Linked DNA regions of Homo sapiens. The protein of the gene in region 1 interacts with the protein of each later gene in a biochemical or structural test. Each region holds a gene or a part of one and is shown in the gene's direction. Other genes may lie near its edges. The genes, in order: TSN and PPP1R15A.

Region 1 (9,948 bases):
CACAGTAAGCAAAAATATGGGTAAATTCAATAGACTTTCCTTCTCTTGAGTTTTCTAAACGATGTTTGATTGTTGAAGCGAAAATTATAATATTGTCTGATGTGGTTATAACTGTATGTAGAGGAAACATTCAACTATTATTAATGGGGGAGAGTAAAGGGATATAGGGAAATGAAGTTTCTATATTTCACTTGAGCTAATAAAATGATAATACCAGTAGACAGTGATAAATGTCTACACACACACACACACACACACACACACACACAAACACACACACGCAACATTTAGAGTAACCACAAAGCTATGCAAAGAGATCTTTTCAAAAACAGTGCAAAGTGGAATTCTTAAAAATGTTCACAGGAAGGCAGAAAAAGAAAACAGAAATAAAAAACAGAGAACAAACAGAAAGCAAAAAACCAAAATGGCAGACTTAAGTGCTAACAGGTCAATAATAACATCAAATATAAATGGTTTAAATATACCAATTGAAGGACAGAGATTGGTGAGTTAATTTTCCAAAAAAGACCCAACTATATCCTATCTGGAAGAAATTCACTTCAAATATAAAGATATAGGCAATGATAGAGGCAGGTTGAAATTAAAAAATGATAAAACATATATAATCCAAATAATAAAAGGAAAGCAAGAGTGGCTATAAAAATATCAGATAAAATAGACCAGTAGAAAAAAATGATGAGTGACAGAGAGGAACATATAATCATAAAAAGTCTATCCACTAAGAAGACATAATAATCCTAAATGTGTATGTAGCAAGCAACAGAGTTGCAAATTTGTGAAACAAAAACTGACAGAACTGAGAGGGGAAATAAAGAAATCTATGGCCTGGTGCTGTGGCTCATGCCTGTAATCCCAACACTTTGGGAGACTGAGGCGGGTGGATCACGAGGTCAAGAGATCGAGACCAGTCTGGTCAATATGGTAAAACCCCGTCTCTACTAAAAATACAAAAATTAGCTGGGCGTGGTGGTGTGCACCTGTAGTCCCAGCTACTTGGGAGGCTGAGGCAGGAGAATTGCTTGAACCCAGGAGGCGGAGGTTGCAGTGAGTAGATATTGTGCCACTACACTCCAGCCTGGTGACAGAGTGAGACTCCGTCTCAAAAAAAAAAAAAAAATCTATAATTATAGTTAGAGACCCCTCTATTGACAATTGATAGAATAAGGCCAGGTGCAGTGGCTCATGCCTGTAATCCCACCACGTTGGGAGGCCAAAGCAAGAGAACTGCTTGAGCCCAGGAGTTCAGGACCAGCCTGAGCAACACAGTGAGATTCTATCTCTACCAAAAATAAAAAAAATTTAGCTAGGCTGGATGACACACACCTATAGTCCCAGCTACTTGGGAGGCTGAGGTGGGAAGATTGCTTGAGCCCAGTAGGTTAAGGCTGCAGTGAGCTGTGGTCATGTCATTGCACTCCAGCCTGGGTGACAGAGCAAGACCATGTCTCTTAAAAAACCAAAACCAAAACAAGGCCAGGCACAGTGGCTCACGCCTATAATTCCAGCACTTTGGGAGGCGTAGGCAGGAGGATCCCTTGAGGCCAGGAGTTCAAGACTAGCCTGAGCAACATGACCAGACCCCATGTCTACGAAAAAATTAAAAAAAAATTATTAAAGCATGGTGGTGCATACCTGTAGTCCCCACTACTCTGGAAGCTGAGGCAGGAGGATCAATTGAGCTCAGGAGTTCAAGGCTGCAGTGAGCTATGATCATACCACTGTACTTCAGCCTGGGTGATAAAGTAAGACCCTACCTCTAAAAACTAACAAACAAACAAACAATAATAACAACAACAACAACACCCTACAGCTAACATCATAGTTAAGGGTGAGAAACTGGACACTTTGGCTCTAAGGTTGGGAAGAAGGCAAGGATGTCCTTTTTCCATTCCTATCCAATATCTTACTGGAAGTCCTATATAATGCATTAGGACAGGAAAAGGAAATAGGAAGTATATAGATTGGGATGAAGAAATAAAACTATTTGTTCACAGATGAAATGACTGATTCTGTAGAAAATCCCTTAAGAAATTAATAGAACAACTAGACAAATCAGCAGGGCATAGAAGAACTCAACAGCTAAAAGGGCCGAATTGCCACTCCACCCAACAACAGATCCTTTCAATTGCCTGTGGAATATATACTAAGAGAGACCATATTCCGGACTATTTAAACAAAATCTTAACACATTTACGAGAATTGAATCATAGCTCGTTCTCTGACTATATAGATTCAAACTAGCAATCAATAACACAATAACAGAAAAATCTCTAAACACTTGAAAATTAAACCATATACTTCTAGATAATCAATTAGGAAGTCACAAGAGAAATTTAAAAAATACATTGAACTAAATAAAAATGAAACTACAACATACCAAAAATTTGTGGTACACAGCTAAGAGCAGTGCCCAGAGGGAAAGTTAACAGCACTAAAATGCATCCATTAGAAAAGTGGGAAAATCTTAATAATCTAAGCTCCATCTCAAGAACCTAGAAGAGTAAAATAAAACCAAAACGAGCAGAAAGAAGAAAATAATAAAGAGCAGACGGCCGGGTGCGGTGGCTCACACCTGTAATCCCAGCACGTTGGGAGGCCGAGGCGGGCAGATCACGAGGTCAGGAGATCGAGACCATCCTGGCTAACAAGGTGAAACCCTGTCTCTACTAAAAATACAAAAAATTAGTTGGGTGCAGTGGCGAGCGCCTGTAGTCCCAGCTACTCAGGAGGCTGAGGCAGGAGAATGGCGTGAACCCGGGAGGCAGAGCTTGCAGTGAGCCGAGATTGCGCCACTGCACTCCAGCCTGGGCGACAGAGCGAGACTCTGTCTCAAAAAAAAAAGAAAATAATAAAGAGTAGAAATTGATGGAATTGAAACAGAATCGGGCATGGTGGCTTATGCCTGTAATCCCAGCACTTTGGGAGGCTGAGGTGGGTGGGTCACCTGAGGTCAGGAGTTCAAGGCCGGCCCGGGCAACATGGTGAAACCCCATCTCTACTAAAAATACAAAAATCAGCTGGGTGCAGCGGAGCGCGCCTGTAATCCCAGTTACTCGGGAGGCTGAGGCAGGAGAATCATATGAACCCAGGAGGCGGAGGTTGCAGTGAGCCGAGATCACGTCACTGCACTCCACCCCAAGTGACAGAGACTCCATCTCAAAAAAAAAAAAAAATTAAACAGAGAACTAGTTATTTTAAGAGATCAATAAAGTGGATAAACCTCCAGCAAGATTGACAAAGAGAAACAGAGAAAATGGATAAATTCTTTCTATCAGGAATGAAATACAGGGTGGCACTAGAGAGCCTGAAGATGACAAAAGAATATAAGGAAATACTATAAACAACTCTATTCAAATAAATGACTTAGACTAAATGAACCAATTCCTTTAAAAAAACACAGCTACCATAGCTCACCCAATATTAAATAGATACTTTGTAGCCTGGGCAACATAGCCAGACCCCATCTCTACCAAAAAAGACAAAAATTAGCCAGGTGTGGTGGCATGTGCCTATAGTCCCAGCTACTGGGTAGGCTGAGGCAGAAGAATCACCTGCTGACAGAGCGAGACCCCATCTCTTAAAGAAAAAGATACTTTGAGTAGCACTATGACTATTAGGAAATTGAATTTGCAATAAAAATTCCCCAAAAGAGATCTCCAAAGAAGGTTTCGTTGGAGAAGGTTTCAGCAGAGAATTCTACAACTACTTAAAGAACAAACAGCAATCTGCATAAGCTCTTCCAGATAATAGACCAGAAGGGAACACTTTCCAGTTCTTTATGAAGCTAGTATTGGGAAGGAAAAGCTTTCTCTTTATTATATTTTGTTCAGTTTATGGGGGCCTCCAAAAAATTATTTATTTGAGGCAGGGTCTCACTCTGTCACCCAGGCTTGAGTGCAGTGGCACAATCATGGCTCACTGCAGCCGTGGCATCCTGAGCTCAAGTGATCCTCCCACCTCAGCCTCTGAAGTAGCTGGGACCACAGGCATGCGCTACCATGTTCAGCCAATTTTCAAAACATTTTTTGTAGAGATGGCGGTCTCACTATGTTGCCCAGGCTGGTCTCGAACTCTTGGGCTCAAGTGATCCTCCTCGTTAGCCTCTTAAAGTGGTGGGATTACAGGTGTGAGCCACCATGCCCAGCCAGGGCCTGCAAATTAAACTGACAAAAGACAGATTAACGGAACAGAAAATCAGCATGGGCATATAAGAACTCAACAACACCATCGACTAATAGGGTCTAATTAAACTTTTTATAGGACACTCCCAAAAAAGGCTTATTTGCATGGATGCTGGAGCTAGCAAAATAAGTAGCTAGCCTACTAAATGGTTAGAGGTTTATGTCTGGGCGCAGTGGTTGATACCTGTAATCCCAGCATTTTGAAAGGCTGAGGCAGGAGGATTTCTTGAGCCCAGGAGTTCAAGACCCGACTGGGCAACGTAATGAGACCAAAAAATGAAACAGAACAAAACAACAATAACGAAAACCACACAAGAAAAGAAAGAAACAAAAAACCAGTTAGTGGCTTGTGTGCCTAACTCTAGGTAAAACGGAGAGGTGACGAAAGTTTGTATGAGAACAAATAGGATTCTTTAGGACAGACGAATGGGTTTTGGGAGAACAAACACGAGATAAGAAAGGGTTTTTTATTTTTTTTGAGACGGAGTCTGTTGCCCAGGCTATAGTGCAGTGGTGTGATCTCGGCTAACTGCAACCTGTGCCTCCCGGGTTCAAGCGATTCTTCTGCCTCAGTCTCCCGAGTTGCCGGGATTACAGGCGCGCGCCACCACGCCCGGCTAGTTTTTGTATCTTTAGTAGAGACGGAGTTTCACCATGTTGGTCAGGCTGGTCTCGAACTCCTGACTTTGTGATCTGCCCGCCTTGGCCTCCCAAAGTGTTGGGATTACAGGTGTGAGCCACTGCGCCCGGCCGATAGTTTTTTAAAAATGTAGGTGCTAGTGGTCTTACTGTCTTCTTCATGGACATGAAATTATTCTCATATAATGAGAATTAAATATGATCCTTCATGTAAAGAGTTTAGAATAATGTCAGAAACAAAGCAAGCAATAAATTATCATTTAGTTGATAAGAATCATTCCAATTCATCTGGCGAGTGCAACACACACACACACTGTATTTGTGTATGGAATAACTGTTCAAGAACACACACACAGTATGTGTGTATGAAATAACTCTTCAAGAACAAAGGGGAAACCGTTATAGGGCATGAAAGGGGAAACCGTTATAGGGCATGGAAGGGGAATTAGGACAAGGTGTGAGTGGAAAGAGAAACATCCCACCGCACACGCTTAAAAAAGCCGTTTAATTTAAAAATAGGTAATACAGCCATACAGAGAAGACATTAAAAGATCTACACAGAAAATTTTCGCTCCCAATCCATTCCCTACTCACAGTCCTACATACGTTACTTTTATTTTCCTTTTTTTTGGAAATGCACTGGCCCCCTACTCTCTCACGAAGGCTGAACTCTCTCTACATTCTTCTGCACCTGTTTTTTGTGCATACTCTTTCGTTGTCAAATATTTCCCTCCAACTGTTGTTGTGTATGAAATAAATACACACATATAAGCTAACCAGCCCCACTTGCCCGCACCACCTACACGCCCGTCCCCGCCCTCCCTCAGGCCCACGTGCTCCGAGGGCCGCCTTCGCAGGTTGTTTCTGGCGATGCCTGTCTGAAGGCCTCAGACTGAGGCCCCGCCCACTCTCCCTCTCCTCTGCCCTTTGGACGCGCGCCTCGGTTCCGAACGCAGCGGACGGCGCCTCAGGCAGCGCGGCGGACAGCCCGTCCTCCGGCGCGCCGCGAGCCTCGGAGGACCCTAGCGACGGTCGTGGCGTAAGACCGGGGGGACGCGGCGGTAGCGGCGGCCGTTGCGATTGATTGCGCTGGTTGCCTGCGGCGTCCACTTCCTTGGCCGCCCTTGCTACACTGGCTGATTGTTGTGCAGCCGGCGCCATGTCTGTGAGCGAGATCTTCGTGGAGCTGCAGGGCTTTTTGGCTGCCGAGCAGGACATCCGAGAGGCGAGCCCCCTCCCTTCCCCATTCCCTTTGCCTTTCCATGCCTAGTTGGGCCACTTCGCCCGGCCCTCCTCTGTCGCTCAGTCTCGGGCGGTGGGGACGCCTCCGAGGGTGGGTTGCTTCCCCTCTAGCTTTAGGTTAGGCACTCCCCGCCCCCGCCCAAAATTTTGCTGCTCTGTCCTGATTCCCCGTGTTCGAGTCTCAGCTTCTCAGCATCACTTGCCTCGTTTGTGTCAGTTTTCCTTCTTTTCAGCACTTGTTTATATCGAAGGCTCGATTAGCACCTGGTCTTCAGCGAATGAGCGTTTCGTGTATTTTTGTTGGTGTCTTAAAAGCACATGTGATCTGCTTAAAACTCTCCTGTGATTTCCTATGCCACACAGGATAAAAAATCAGACTCTACTGTGGCTCACATGGTTTCTCTTCAATCTCGTTTATGCTCTCTGTCTTTGTGTATGATGTTCACTTTACCTCTTCTAGTGCCCCAAATAGCTTCCTGCCTGTTTGCTTTTCCTGGAATTTGCTTCTTTCCCGTTCTTTTCCTGATTGTCTCGTATTTATCTCATTGGCGTCACAGTCTAAGCGATCTATTTCCTGTTATGTTTTCTAGTAGCACATTAACTTTTTTTAATGTGTGTAATATTGATTATTTTAAAAAAATCTTCTCCCTCATTGTATGTTAAACCGCCAGAGGGAAGGGATTGTGTGCTTGGTTCCCCGGTATTTACACAGTGCCTCGCACATAAGTATGCTCAGTGAATATTTTAAAAATGAATTAGAGGCGGGGAGCGGCGCCTCATGCCTGTAATTCCAGCATTTTGGGAGGCCGAGGCGGCCAGATCACCTGAGGTAAGGAGTTTGAGACCAGCCTGGCCAACATGGGGAAACCCTGTCTCTACTAAAAATATAAAAGAACATTAACTGGGCATGGTTGCGCACACCTGTAATCCCAGCTACTCGGGAGGCTGAAGCAGGAGAATGGCGTGAACCCGGGAGGCGGAGGTTGCGGTGAGCTGAGATCGCGCCACTGCACTCCAGCCTGGGTGACAGAGCGAGACTCCGTCTCAAAAAAAAAAAAAAAAAGAAAAAAGAATTAGAAATACCCGACTCTTGTGTTGCATTTAACTCTTCATTTTGCAAGTTGCGTTCACACACGTCATCCATTATAATGTCCCAATTGAATACTTGGGTTTAATGGGTGGCTATTATTCTTTAAAGGGTATCTGAGGAATCTAAGGCTTTTTAGTGACTTTTTGAAGTCTTACAGAGGAAATAAGTGGAAAAGTCAGGATTCAAACTTGGTTATGATAGATCACATAAGCTATCTAATGTGTTTTGTGTGAGTGTATGACAATGATTCTGTTGAGTATCTGATTTTTATTTTTAATTCTCTCTAGGAAATCAGAAAAGTTGTACAGAGTTTAGAACAAACAGCTCGAGAGATTTTAACTCTACTGCAAGGGGTCCATCAGGGTGCTGGGTTTCAGGACAGTAAGTTCTTTGTTTTGTATCCAATTATCAGTCTCTTATTTAGAGGGAGAGTTTCTATCCAGAAGACATTTTATAATGAAAAATGGCTATCATGCTTTATGGTGAGTAAAAATTGAAGAAGTAGGTGATTTGATAATTTTGGTTGATTTTTCTTCCACTTCCACACAGTATGGTTTAAACAGAGATGTTTTCTATTGCGAGGGCATTCTACTGATGATAATTACAATTGCTTAACCCATTTCCTGTTTAGAAAAAAAAAGTGCAGCTCTCTGCCAGCACAGTATTCTCAGGGTAAGCGGGAAAAGGGTTTATTATTATTTTTTTAATTTTTTTTTTTTCTGAGACGGAGTTTCACTCTTGTTGCCCAGGCTGGAGTGCAGTGGTGCCATCTCAGCTCACTGCAACCTCCGCCTCCTGGGTTCAAGCAATTCTCCTGCCTCAGCCTCCTGAGTAGCTGGTGTTACAGGTGCCCGCCATCACGCCCAGCTACTTTTTTTTTTTTTGGTATTTTTATTAGAGATGGGGTTTCACTTTGTTGGCCAGGCTGGTCTTGCACTCCTGACCTCAGATGATCCGCCTGGCTGGGCCTCTCAAAGTGCTGGGATTACAGGCGTGAGCCACTGCACCTGGCCCAAGGGTTTGTAACTCTTTTGTGTTATCTAGTGACTTTTATTTGGCCCTTTGTGTGTGTGTGTGTGTATGTGTGTATGTGTGTATATGCACCTGTGTGTATTTGAATCCAGCCTTTCAGTGATTGAATACCTTTTAATATGAGATTAACAGTATAAAATGTTCTCAAATTAATGTGTTTATAATCAGCCTCTTGAATGAAAATAAAATATGTCAAGTTTAGACATGGAACCTTCATTGTAAGGTATTGCCAGCACAGCTAAAGGAGCTGAAGTATATTTTCAGATACAAGAATGATATAATAATGCATTTACACGTGCCAGAGGCAAGTGATTTTTCTTAATGATACGGAGTTGGTCATCCTGATTGTGAATACTTGGTAAAGGCTTTTTTCTGCCAAATATGGGAGGAAGAAGCAATCCAATTTTAGGCATCCTCTGAGGAGTGAACAGGAATAGCAGCTGGTGTGCATCTCCTTAAGGATGACGTTATTTATGACAACCAAACCAATTACCAGTGTGTCTCCTAATATATTCCCTTTTAGCAAGTTGTTTATTTTTCAGTATAGCTAATTAGTAGGGAAACTGGGGATGATATTTTGAAAGCCAGGTTGAAAAGCACAGATGTGTACGTTAGTTGTGAGGTTTTTTTGTTGATTAATTTCCAGATAGATTACTTAGATTATTAAGCAAGAACTGTATTTGAAATTTGGTTAAGTTTTTCATTTGGTTATCTTTTGTGACTAGTTCCAAAGAGGTGTTTGAAAGCTCGAGAACATTTTGGTACAGTAAAAACACATCTAACATCTTTGAAGACCAAATTTCCTGCTGAACAGTATTACAGGTTTGTAAGAAAAATAGCATTATTTTATAATGTTAAGTAAAAAAAAGGAGAAAAATTATGTGTACCAAATGATTGCTTACAACTAGGCAAACATCCTGTGTAGAAGTAACAAAAAGAGAAAAAACCGAACTAATAATGGTCATGACAAAAATTGGTGATTTTATTTTTTTCTTCTTTTTACTGTCTAAATCTTAAGGAACATGTATTACTTTTGCAGTGAAAAAGCAATTAAAAAGAAAATGTGGTATGAGGGTCAAAAGTGAGAATATCTTTTTGCTATATTCAAGTTTCTTGTGAAATTGGATGAACTATAGTTAGTGAAATAATGAGATTAGGTGGCAGTATATATATGGAGTCGAGTTTTACTTTGAAGCTTGAATTTCACTGCCAAGTGATGTAATTAGCTAATATTTTATGCCATGTTTTCTTATTAAAATCAACACTGTTGATTTTAAGATACACCATTATTTTATGTACCAGTAGGGAAGGAAAATTTTGCCAGTCATAAATGTGAAACATGGGCCAGGCGTGGTGGCTCACACCTGTAATCCTAGCACTTTGGGAGGCCTAGGTGGGCAGATCACCTGAGGTCAGGAGTTTGAGACAGCCTGGCTAGCATGGCGAAACCCCGTCTCTACTAAAAATACGAAAATTAGCCAGGTGTGGTGGCTTATCCCTGTAACCCCAGCCACTTCAGAGGCTGAGGCAGGAGAATCGCTTGAACCAGGCAGGCGGAGGTTGCAGTGAGCCAAGATTGTGCCATTGCACTCCAGCCTGGGCAACAGAGTGAGACTCCATCTAAAAAAAAAAAACAACTTGTGAAACATGGATTGTGAAATGTCTCCTGGTTTCATAGGTGTTAAACTGGGAAAAACTGCACCTGAATCAAAAGTTTCTACTTATTTTAATTTTCTTACTGAA
Region 2 (9,523 bases), on another chromosome or scaffold:
GGTCCTTTGGGATCTGAACTGGGACTATGGGCTGGGAGGGCCCCATAATCAGGGGGAACTCTCACGCTGAGTCTCCAGTGAATCAAAGGATGCCCTGGTGCCCTGCGGTCACACCCCTTAGCAACCAAGTACAAGGAGAGGAAGCCTCAAATCCCTCCATCCTGCCCGGATGGAGCCTCATCTCCTGATGCCCACAGATATCTCAGGCATCCTTAGCCAGGTCCCGACAATATGCCCTTCCTTGGAAGCGGTGGTACTGACCAAGGCTGAGATCAGATCTCTGGGCTCTGAACTTGAGAAACAATATGTGTGGAACGGCAGGAGGAAAAAGAAATGAGTGTCTCCCTAAGCTTTTGGCTGGGATGCCGATTTGGGATGCAAGTATCTGGAGGCCCCTTGGGTCTTATTGTCAGAGAAGGGTCTCTCCTTATAGGATTTCATTAGTGGGTAGATTGGATGGCGAGAGATAGGACAGCAAGTTCTGGCACTAATCAAGAGCAGCCACTACTTCTCAGAACTCGAGGGGCCTCATGGCTGGGGAGCGGCTTTATCTTAGCAACCAGGGTCAAGGGAGGTTGTTACTCTGGTTTAGAATTAGGAAAATACAAAGGGTGGGGACAGAGCTGGGAGTGCCTCTGAATTCCTAGCTGCGGTGTGTAGGCAATTTGGGACCTTACTATGTCTGGCAGACCCCGTTGCTAAGGATCTTTGTCCTTAACAACCAGAGTCCTTGGGGAAACAGAAGGATGGGCGGCCCAGAGCCCCACCTTCCTCCCCATCCCCGCCAGGAAGCTCAAACCTTGGGGCTCAGGCTGCTGAGCGAGGAGATGGTGGAGGCGCTGCTGGCCAGGCTCAGGCTGCTGCGAGGTCGGCTCCCCTCCATCAAGGGCTGGGGGAGAGAAAGAAAGGGGCTGTGTCTCTGCAGTGACGGGTGTGAGACAGAGATGGGGTCAGGGGCTTGGAGGTCGGAGGAGGCTGCAGAGAAAGAGCCTGTTGTTTCGGGACTTGGGGGGCTGGGGGAGGCCATGGCCCGTGACCACATACCAAGAGTGGTGCCAAGAGAGGTAGGCGGCCCTGGCAGCTGCGGGAGGGGGCAGCTGTCTGCAGCCCAGGCCAGAGAATAGGGGCTTCTTTATTCCTGCCCACTGCACTCAGGCCAGGAATTTGACCCTCTCTGTGCTTAGGGACTCCCCATTCCCTGCCTCCTTCCGGCTGCCCCAGGCTACCTGTCTCCCGCCCTCCCACATGCACCCCCAAACCACCCCTGCCAACTCCCCAAGCCAAGCCCTGCGGCACCAGGAATGTGAACCCAGAGAGCCCCTCCCAGCCCAGCCAGGGAACTTACCCAGCTCTGGGGTCCCAGTGACGGGGGGGCAAGAGGACGGTGTGGGTGCTGCGGCACCTAGGCAGTCTCCCGCCTCCTTTGTCTCTTAGCTGCTGTCTCTCATAGTTCTCAATCTCTCTCCTCACCTGCTCACTCACACTTTTTGTCTCTTTGTCTCCTGTCTCTTACGGTCTCTCTCTCTCTCTCTTCCTTTTACACTACCTCTCTCCCCACTCTCACTTTCTGTGTCTCCCTCTGATCTCTGTCTCTTCCAGTCTCTCTCTCACTCATTCTCTCCCTCTCTCTCTCTCTCCAATCTTTCTGTTTCTGTCCAAATCTTTTATTGTCAGACTCACAGGGTCTCTTCCTTAAGTCTCTGTCTCATTCTCTCTCTCTCTCTCTCTCTGTCTCTCAGTCATCCCCTGTGTCCTCTCTCCTTCACACTCAGTCTCTTCCTCTTTCTCTCTGGCTCTGCCGTTTCCTCCCTTTTCTCTTTCCGATTTCCCTTCTCACTTTCTCCCTTCCTCCCTCTCCCAGTTTCTCTTTCCTCTCTGCTGGTCTTTCCCTGCCTCTGCCAGCCGCCCACGCTGCTGTTCTCCCCTCCCAATCCCGGCTGTCCCCGCCCCTTCTGGCCTCCCCACTACAGCCTGACCTCTGGCTCAGCTGCCCCCATAGCTGAAGGGAGGGGCTTGGGCCCCCCAATTCCCAGGTCCCCTAAGGACCAAGGTTGGGACTTCTCAGTGTTTGGAGAGTTGGACTTGAGGCCTGCACTCCAGGGCCCCCGTGGGTTTGCTGCTGTGGTTGGGGGCCTGAGCCACTGGTGTCCTAAACGGAGGAGGCTTGTGTCCTGCAAGGGGTGGGGACTCAAATTTCCAAAGCCCTGGAGGGAATGGGTTAGGGATCCAGACTCCTGGGTGCCCGAGAAGGTCTGAGCTAGGATCAGGACTCCTGAGTCGTGAAAGAGCTGGGGGTCTGGAAACATGGCTGTGCTTGGAAGGGGCCAGGGACGGTTTGTCCAGGTCCCCTAGGGAGAAAAGGGGATGGTCCCAGTAGGGCAGGGTGAAATGGAGAGTTCCAAACCTCCACCTCAGATCCAGGTGAGAATTCTCTTCTAGACTGAGGACAACTCCCTCAGGAGAGAGACATGATTCCTTGGTATATTTTGAGGAACAAGATTATGCATCCGTAGGCAGGGGAGGAGAGCGGGGGGCTGGAACTGTCACCCAGGGCCTGGAACTTGTAGCAGAAGCGCCCCCACCCGCACAAAGAGTGCCACCCAGGCAGAATCGCGGCTTGTGGGGGCAGAGCTACTGCCTAAGTCTGAAGCAGATGACACCCAGGAGTGGAGCCTTGTGCCTGTGACCGGGAAGGAATCTGAGCTTTCGGTTTAACTGCCATTCACCATGCACCTGTTGAGCACCTACTGTGTGCAGGCACTGTCTGTTGCAGCCACTGAGAAGAAAGCAGTGAGCCCTGGCTGGGTGCAATGGCTCACGCCTGTAATCCCAGCACTTTGGGAGGCCAAGGCAGGAGGATCGCTTGAGACCAGGAGTTCAACACCAGCCTGGGCATCATAGCGAGACCTTGTCTCTATTTAGAAAATGAATTTCTTTTTTTTTTTTTTTTGAGGCGGTGTTTTGCTCTGTCGCCAGGCTGGAGTGCAGTGGCGTGATCTCGGCTCACTGCAACCTCCGCCTCCCGGGTTCAAGCGATTCTCCTGACTCAGCCTCCTGAGTAGCTGGAACTACAGGCACATGCCACTGCACCCGGCCTAAATTAATTATTATTATTATTTTTTTGAGACGGAGTCTCGCTCTGTCGCCCAGGCTGGAGTACAGTGGCACGATCTCAGCTCACTGCAAGCTCTGCCTCCCAGGTTCACGCCATTCTCCTGCCTCAGCCTCCCGAGTAGCTGGGACTACAGGTGCCCACCACCACGCCCGGCTAATTTATTTTGTATTTTTAGTGGAGGCGGGGTTTCACCGTGTTAGCCAGGATGGTCTTGATCTCCTGACCTCATGATCCACCTGCCTCAGCGTCCCAAAGTGCTAGGATTACAGGCGTGAGCCACCGCGCTCAGCCTAATTACTTTTTTTTGAAAAGCATTGAGCCCAGCAAAGTGCCTGATCTCATAGTGCTTACATCCTCATTCTCATTTGCAAGGAATCTGGACCCTGCTGTGACTATCTTGGTCAAGTGGCTTCATTTCCAAGCCTGTTTCCCCATCTGTGAAATGGGAACAATGACACCCTCGCACTCGGGGAGGAAACCAACCACATGTGAAAATAGGAGACTCTAGCCAGGCGTGGTGGCAAGCTCCTGTACTCCCAACTACTCAGGAGGCTGAGGCAGGAGAATTGCTTGAACCCGGGAGGCGGAGGTTGCAGTGAGCCAAGATCATGCCATTGCACTCCAGCCTGGGTGACAGAGTGAGACACCGTCTCAAAAAAAAAAAAAAAAAAAGAAAGAAAAAGAAAAAAGAAAGAAAAGAAAAAAAAAAGAAAATGGGAGACTCTAGGCTGGGGCCTGTGGGCTAAATTGGGGTAGGAGGCCAGGCACAGTGGATCACAACTGTAATTCCAGCACTTTGGGAAGCCAAGGCGGGCAGATCACCTGAGGTCAGGAGTTCAAGACCAGCCTGGTCGGCCGGGTGCGGTGGCTCACACCTGTAATCCCAGCACTTTGGGAGGCCGAGGCGGGTGGATCACAAGGTCAGGAGATCGAGACCATCCTGGTTAACACGGTGAAAAACCCCGTCTCTACTAAGAATACAAAAAAAATTAGCCGGGCGTGGTGGTGGGCACCTGTAGTCCCAGCTACTAGGGAGGCTGAGGCAGGAGAATGGCGAGAACCAGGGAGGAGGAGCTTGCAGTGAGCCAAGATCGTGCCACTGCACTCCAGCCTGGGCGACAGAGCAAGACTCCGTCTCAAAAAAAAAAAAAAAAAAAAAGACCTGCCTGGTCAACATGGCGAAACACTGTCTCTACTAAAAATACAAAAATTACCCAGGCATTGTGGCACATGCCTGTAATCCCAGCTACTCCAGAGGCTCAGGCAGGAGAATCGCTGGAACCCAGGAGGTGGAGGTTGCAGTGAACCGAGATGGCGCCACTGAACTCCAGCCTGGGCGACAGAGTGAGACGCCTACTCAAAAAATAAATAGGCTGGGTGCAGTAGCTCACGCCTATAATCCTAACACTTTGGGAAGCCGAGGCAGGCAGACTGCCTGAGCTCAGGAGTTCGAGAACAGCCTGGGCAACATGGCGAAACACTGTCTCTACTAAAAATACAAAAAATTAGCTGAGTGTGGTAGTGCGTGCCTGTAATCCCAGCTACTCGGAGGCTGAAGAGGGAGAATCGCTTGAACCCGGAAGATGGAGGTTGCAGTGAGCCGAGATCACGCCATTGCACTCCAGCCTCGGTGACAGAGCGAGACTCCATCTCAAAAAAAAATAAAAAAATAAAAAATAACAAATAAATAAATAGGCCTGGAGTGGTGGCTCACGCCTGCAATCCCAGCACTTTGGGAGGCCAAGGCAGGCAGAACACCTGAGGTCAGGAGTTCGAGACCAGCCTAGCAAACATGGTGAAATCCCGTCTCAGAAAAATAAATAATGAATAAATAAATAAATAAATAGGCCGGGCGCGGTGACTCACGCCTGTAATCCCAGCACTTTGGGAGGCCAAGGCGGGAGGATCCCCTGACGTCGGGAGTTCCAGACCAGCCTGACCAACATGGAGAAACTACGTCTCTACTAAACAAATACAAAATTAGCCGGGCGTGGCGGCACATGCCTGCAATCCCAGCACTTTGGGAGGCCAAGGCGGGAGGATCCCCTGACGTCGGGAGTTCCAGACCAGCCTGACCAACATGGAGAAACTACGTCTCTACTAAACAAATACAAAATTAGCCGGGCGTGGCGGCACATGCCTGCAATCCCAGATACTCGGGATGCTGAGGCAGGAGAATCGCTTGAACCCCGAAGGCGGAGGTTGCGGTGAGCCGAGATCGCCCCTTTGCATTCCAGCCTGAGCAACAAGAGCAAAACTCCGCCTCAAAATAACTAACTAAATAAATAAATAAATTGGGGTGGGAAGGCATTGACCCTGAGCTGAGAGAGAACTGGCTCGCTGTTGAAGCAGGGCCACGCATTTGATTGACAGTTCGTTTGTTGGAGGGGCGTGGTCACGCTCGGAAACTCCGCCGTGACGTTGCAAAAGCTGGAATCTCCGCGAGAAGTCCTGTCTTACTTCCACTTCCCACCCTTCGGGTTGCGGTCTCGAAACCCCGCCTCTCTTCGTGACGTCAGCACGCCGGGCGCGGTAGGCTATAAAAGCCTAGTGGCCATTGTGTTCGTTGCTCTTATCGGTTCCCATCCCAGTTGTTGATCTTATGCAAGACGCTGCACGACCCCGCGCCCGCTTGTCGCCACGGCACTTGAGGCAGCCGGAGATACTCTGAGTTACTCGGAGCCCGACGCCTGAGGGTGAGATGAACGCGCTGGCCTCCCTAACCGTCCGGACCTGTGATCGCTTCTGGCAGACCGAACCGGCGCTCCTGCCCCCGGGGTGACGCGCAGCTCCCAGCCGGTGAGTAAGGGGTCGGAACGCCTGGGTCCCCACGGGGCTGGGGGCCCGGATTTAGAAAGGAGAAGGGGTTGGGAGCCTGGAGTCCTGAGCCTGAGGGAGGAGGGATCTGGAAGCCAGATTCTTGGGTCCCCCGTGAAGGAATCATCTGCCAAGTAGGGGGTCGGGTCAGAATGTTTCAGTCTGCGAGGGAGGAGGGTGTGAGGGTTTGATTTGTCAATCTTCAGCAGAATGAGAGAGCTAGGGACTATGACTTTGTCGCCAAGGGAAGCAAGTAAAGACTTTTGTTCTTGGTTCTTGGGACTGGGAGTTCTGCGTCTGAAGAAAGAGAGGGCTGGGGGCTTGGACCCTTGGATCTAAGGCAGAACTAGGGGCTCAGACTCCTGGCTATTGAGAGATAAGAACAGAGCCAAGGGACAGAGATGGGCGTGGCCGAGATCAGAAAGGAATTTGGGACTCTCGCGTTGCTATTTACAATAGTTGTGTTACTATTTCCGTTGCTATGACTCATAGTCACGCCCGGATGCCATCCTCTAAATGGCCCCTAAACTTTATTTTTTTCTCCCCCTTTTCCAGCCCAGACACATGGCCCCAGGCCAAGCACCCCATCAGGCTACCCCGTGGAGGGATGCCCACCCTTTCTTCCTCCTGTCCCCAGTGATGGGCCTCCTCAGCCGCGCCTGGAGCCGCCTGAGGGGCCTGGGACCTCTAGAGCCCTGGCTGGTGGAAGCAGTAAAAGGAGCAGCTCTGGTAGAAGCTGGCCTGGAGGGAGAAGCTAGGACTCCTCTGGCAATCCCCCATACCCCTTGGGGCAGACGCCCTGAAGAGGAGGCTGAAGACAGTGGAGGCCCTGGAGAGGACAGAGAAACACTGGGGCTGAAAACCAGCAGTTCCCTTCCTGAAGCCTGGGGACTTTTGGATGATGATGATGGCATGTATGGTGAGCGAGAGGCAACCAGTGTCCCTAGAGGGCAGGGAAGTCAATTTGCAGATGGCCAGCGTGCTCCCCTGTCTCCCAGCCTTCTGATAAGGACACTGCAAGGTTCTGATAAGAACCCAGGGGAGGAGAAAGCCGAGGAAGAGGGAGTTGCTGAAGAGGAGGGAGTTAACAAGTTCTCTTATCCACCATCACACCGGGAGTGTTGTCCAGCCGTGGAGGAGGAGGACGATGAAGAAGCTGTAAAGAAAGAAGCTCACAGAACCTCTACTTCTGCCTTGTCTCCAGGATCCAAGCCCAGCACTTGGGTGTCTTGCCCAGGGGAGGAAGAGAATCAAGCCACGGAGGATAAAAGAACAGAAAGAAGTAAAGGAGCCAGGAAGACCTCCGTGTCCCCCCGATCTTCAGGCTCCGACCCCAGGTCCTGGGAGTATCGTTCAGGAGAGGCGTCCGAGGAGAAGGAGGAAAAGGCACACAAAGAAACTGGGAAAGGAGAAGCTGCCCCAGGGCCGCAATCCTCAGCCCCAGCCCAGAGGCCCCAGCTCAAGTCCTGGTGGTGCCAACCCAGTGATGAAGAGGAGGGTGAGGTCAAGGCTTTGGGGGCAGCTGAGAAGGATGGAGAAGCTGAGTGTCCTCCCTGCATCCCCCCACCAAGTGCCTTCCTGAAGGCCTGGGTGTATTGGCCAGGAGAGGACACAGAGGAAGAGGAAGATGAGGAAGAAGATGAGGACAGTGACTCTGGATCAGATGAGGAAGAGGGAGAAGCTGAGGCTTCCTCTTCCACTCCTGCTACAGGTGTCTTCTTGAAGTCCTGGGTCTATCAGCCAGGAGAGGACACAGAGGAGGAGGAAGATGAGGACAGTGATACAGGATCAGCCGAGGATGAAAGAGAAGCTGAGACTTCTGCTTCCACACCCCCTGCAAGTGCTTTCTTGAAGGCCTGGGTGTATCGGCCAGGAGAGGACACGGAGGAGGAGGAAGATGAGGATGTGGATAGTGAGGATAAGGAAGATGATTCAGAAGCAGCCTTGGGAGAAGCTGAGTCAGACCCACATCCCTCCCACCCGGACCAGAGGGCCCACTTCAGGGGCTGGGGATATCGACCTGGAAAAGAGACAGAGGAAGAGGAAGCTGCTGAGGACTGGGGAGAAGCTGAGCCCTGCCCCTTCCGAGTGGCCATCTATGTACCTGGAGAGAAGCCACCGCCTCCCTGGGCTCCTCCTAGGCTGCCCCTCCGACTGCAAAGGCGGCTCAAGCGCCCAGAAACCCCTACTCATGATCCGGACCCTGAGACTCCCCTAAAGGCCAGAAAGGTAGGTGCTGAGAGCCCAGATTCTATTTTTTTTTTTTTTTTAATTGAGTTGGAGTCTTGGGCTGTCACCCAGGCTGGAGTGCAGCGGCATGATCTTGGCTCACTGCCAACCTCTGCCGCCCAAGTTCAGGCGATTCTCGTGCCTCAGCCTCCAGAGTATCTGGGATTACAGGCGCATGACACCACACCCAGCTAATTTTTTTTGTATTTTTAGTAGAGACGGGGGTTTTGCCATGTTGGCCAGGCTGGTCTCAAACTCCTGACATCACGTGATCCACCCATCTCAGCCTCCCAAAGTGCTGGGATTACAGGCGTGAGCTACCACATCTGGCTGAGAGCCCAGATTCTTGAGTCTTAGAAAGAAAGGGGGCTGGGGGCCGAGACTTCTGGGTCCCTGTATGTTGCAGAGGGTTGCATGTCATCTCCATGGAGAAGGCTGTGTACGCTGTCACGCAATCCCTTGTAAGAGGCCAGGCCCCTGGGGGAGGAGGGAGCAGCTGTGGCTCACAGCAGCCCCAGGAAACCACCTCTTCCTTCAGTGAGTCAGATAGATAGAGAATCCCGTGACAGTGACAGGCAAGTGACTAGCCAGATAGAAAGCATTTTTGTGTAATAACTAATTTTTGTTTGCTTCTCTCTCTCTCTTCCCCGCCCTCCCCATCCGGATTCCCGTGGCTGTGTGCATCTCCTGCCTGTGTCCCCATGTCTGCCCGCAGGTGCGCTTCTCCGAGAAGGTCACTGTCCATTTCCTGGCTGTCTGGGCAGGGCCGGCCCAGGCCGCCCGCCAGGGCCCCTGGGAGCAGCTTGCTCGGGATCGCAGCCGCTTCGCACGCCGCATCACCCAGGCCCAGGAGGAGCTGAGCCCCTGCCTCACCCCTGCTGCCCGGGCCAGAGCCTGGGCACGCCTCAGGAACCCACCTTTAGCCCCCATCCCTGCCCTCACCCAGACCTTGCCTTCCTCCTCTGTCCCTTCGTCCCCAGTCCAGACCACGCCCTTGAGCCAAGCTGTGGCCACACCTTCCCGCTCGTCTGCTGCTGCAGCGGCTGCCCTGGACCTCAGTGGGAGGCGTGGCTGAGACCAACTGGTTTGCCTATAATTTATTAACTATTTATTTTTTCTAAGTGTGGGTTTATATAAGGAATAAAGCCTTTTGATTTGTAGCGAGCAGCGTCTGTATGTGTCAGAAACTGACAGCATTCTACTTACAGGTCCCTGAGGGAGCTGGGAAGAGAATAGCATAAAACAAAGCACTTCAATGGCGGATAAACCGCTTTTCCTCAAATTTGCTACCACTCATCCTGAGGCTTCTTTTGAACCTAACAGTGCAGGGACCAGCCCCACAGGGTCGGTGGGCTTCTCCCT

What was found.
Region 2: the proteins of TSN (region 1) and PPP1R15A form a complex in vitro, tested with the Homo sapiens proteins (one study listed by BioGRID).

Annotation. Positions count from the first base shown.
Region 1 is NC_000002.12:121,749,780-121,759,727, forward strand, and holds the start of TSN (translin), read left to right. Parts: upstream 1-5,871; 5' UTR 5,872-6,000; coding exon 6,001-6,066; exon of another isoform or gene 6,067-6,174; intron 6,175-7,460; coding exon 7,461-7,554; intron 7,555-8,930; coding exon 8,931-9,027; intron 9,028-9,948. UniProt on the Homo sapiens protein: DNA-binding protein that specifically recognizes consensus sequences at the breakpoint junctions in chromosomal translocations, mostly involving immunoglobulin (Ig)/T-cell receptor gene segments.
Region 2 is NC_000019.10:48,866,738-48,876,260, forward strand, and holds PPP1R15A (protein phosphatase 1 regulatory subunit 15A), read left to right. Parts: upstream 1-5,683; 5' UTR 5,684-5,914; intron 5,915-6,487; 5' UTR 6,488-6,496; coding exon 6,497-8,161; intron 8,162-8,876; coding exon 8,877-9,236; 3' UTR 9,237-9,321; downstream 9,322-9,523. Other genes in the region: PLEKHA4 (pleckstrin homology domain-containing family A member 4), read right to left, coding at 800-883. UniProt on the Homo sapiens protein: Recruits the serine/threonine-protein phosphatase PPP1CA to prevents excessive phosphorylation of the translation initiation factor eIF-2A/EIF2S1, thereby reversing the shut-off of protein synthesis initiated by stress-inducible kinases and facilitating recovery of cells from stress.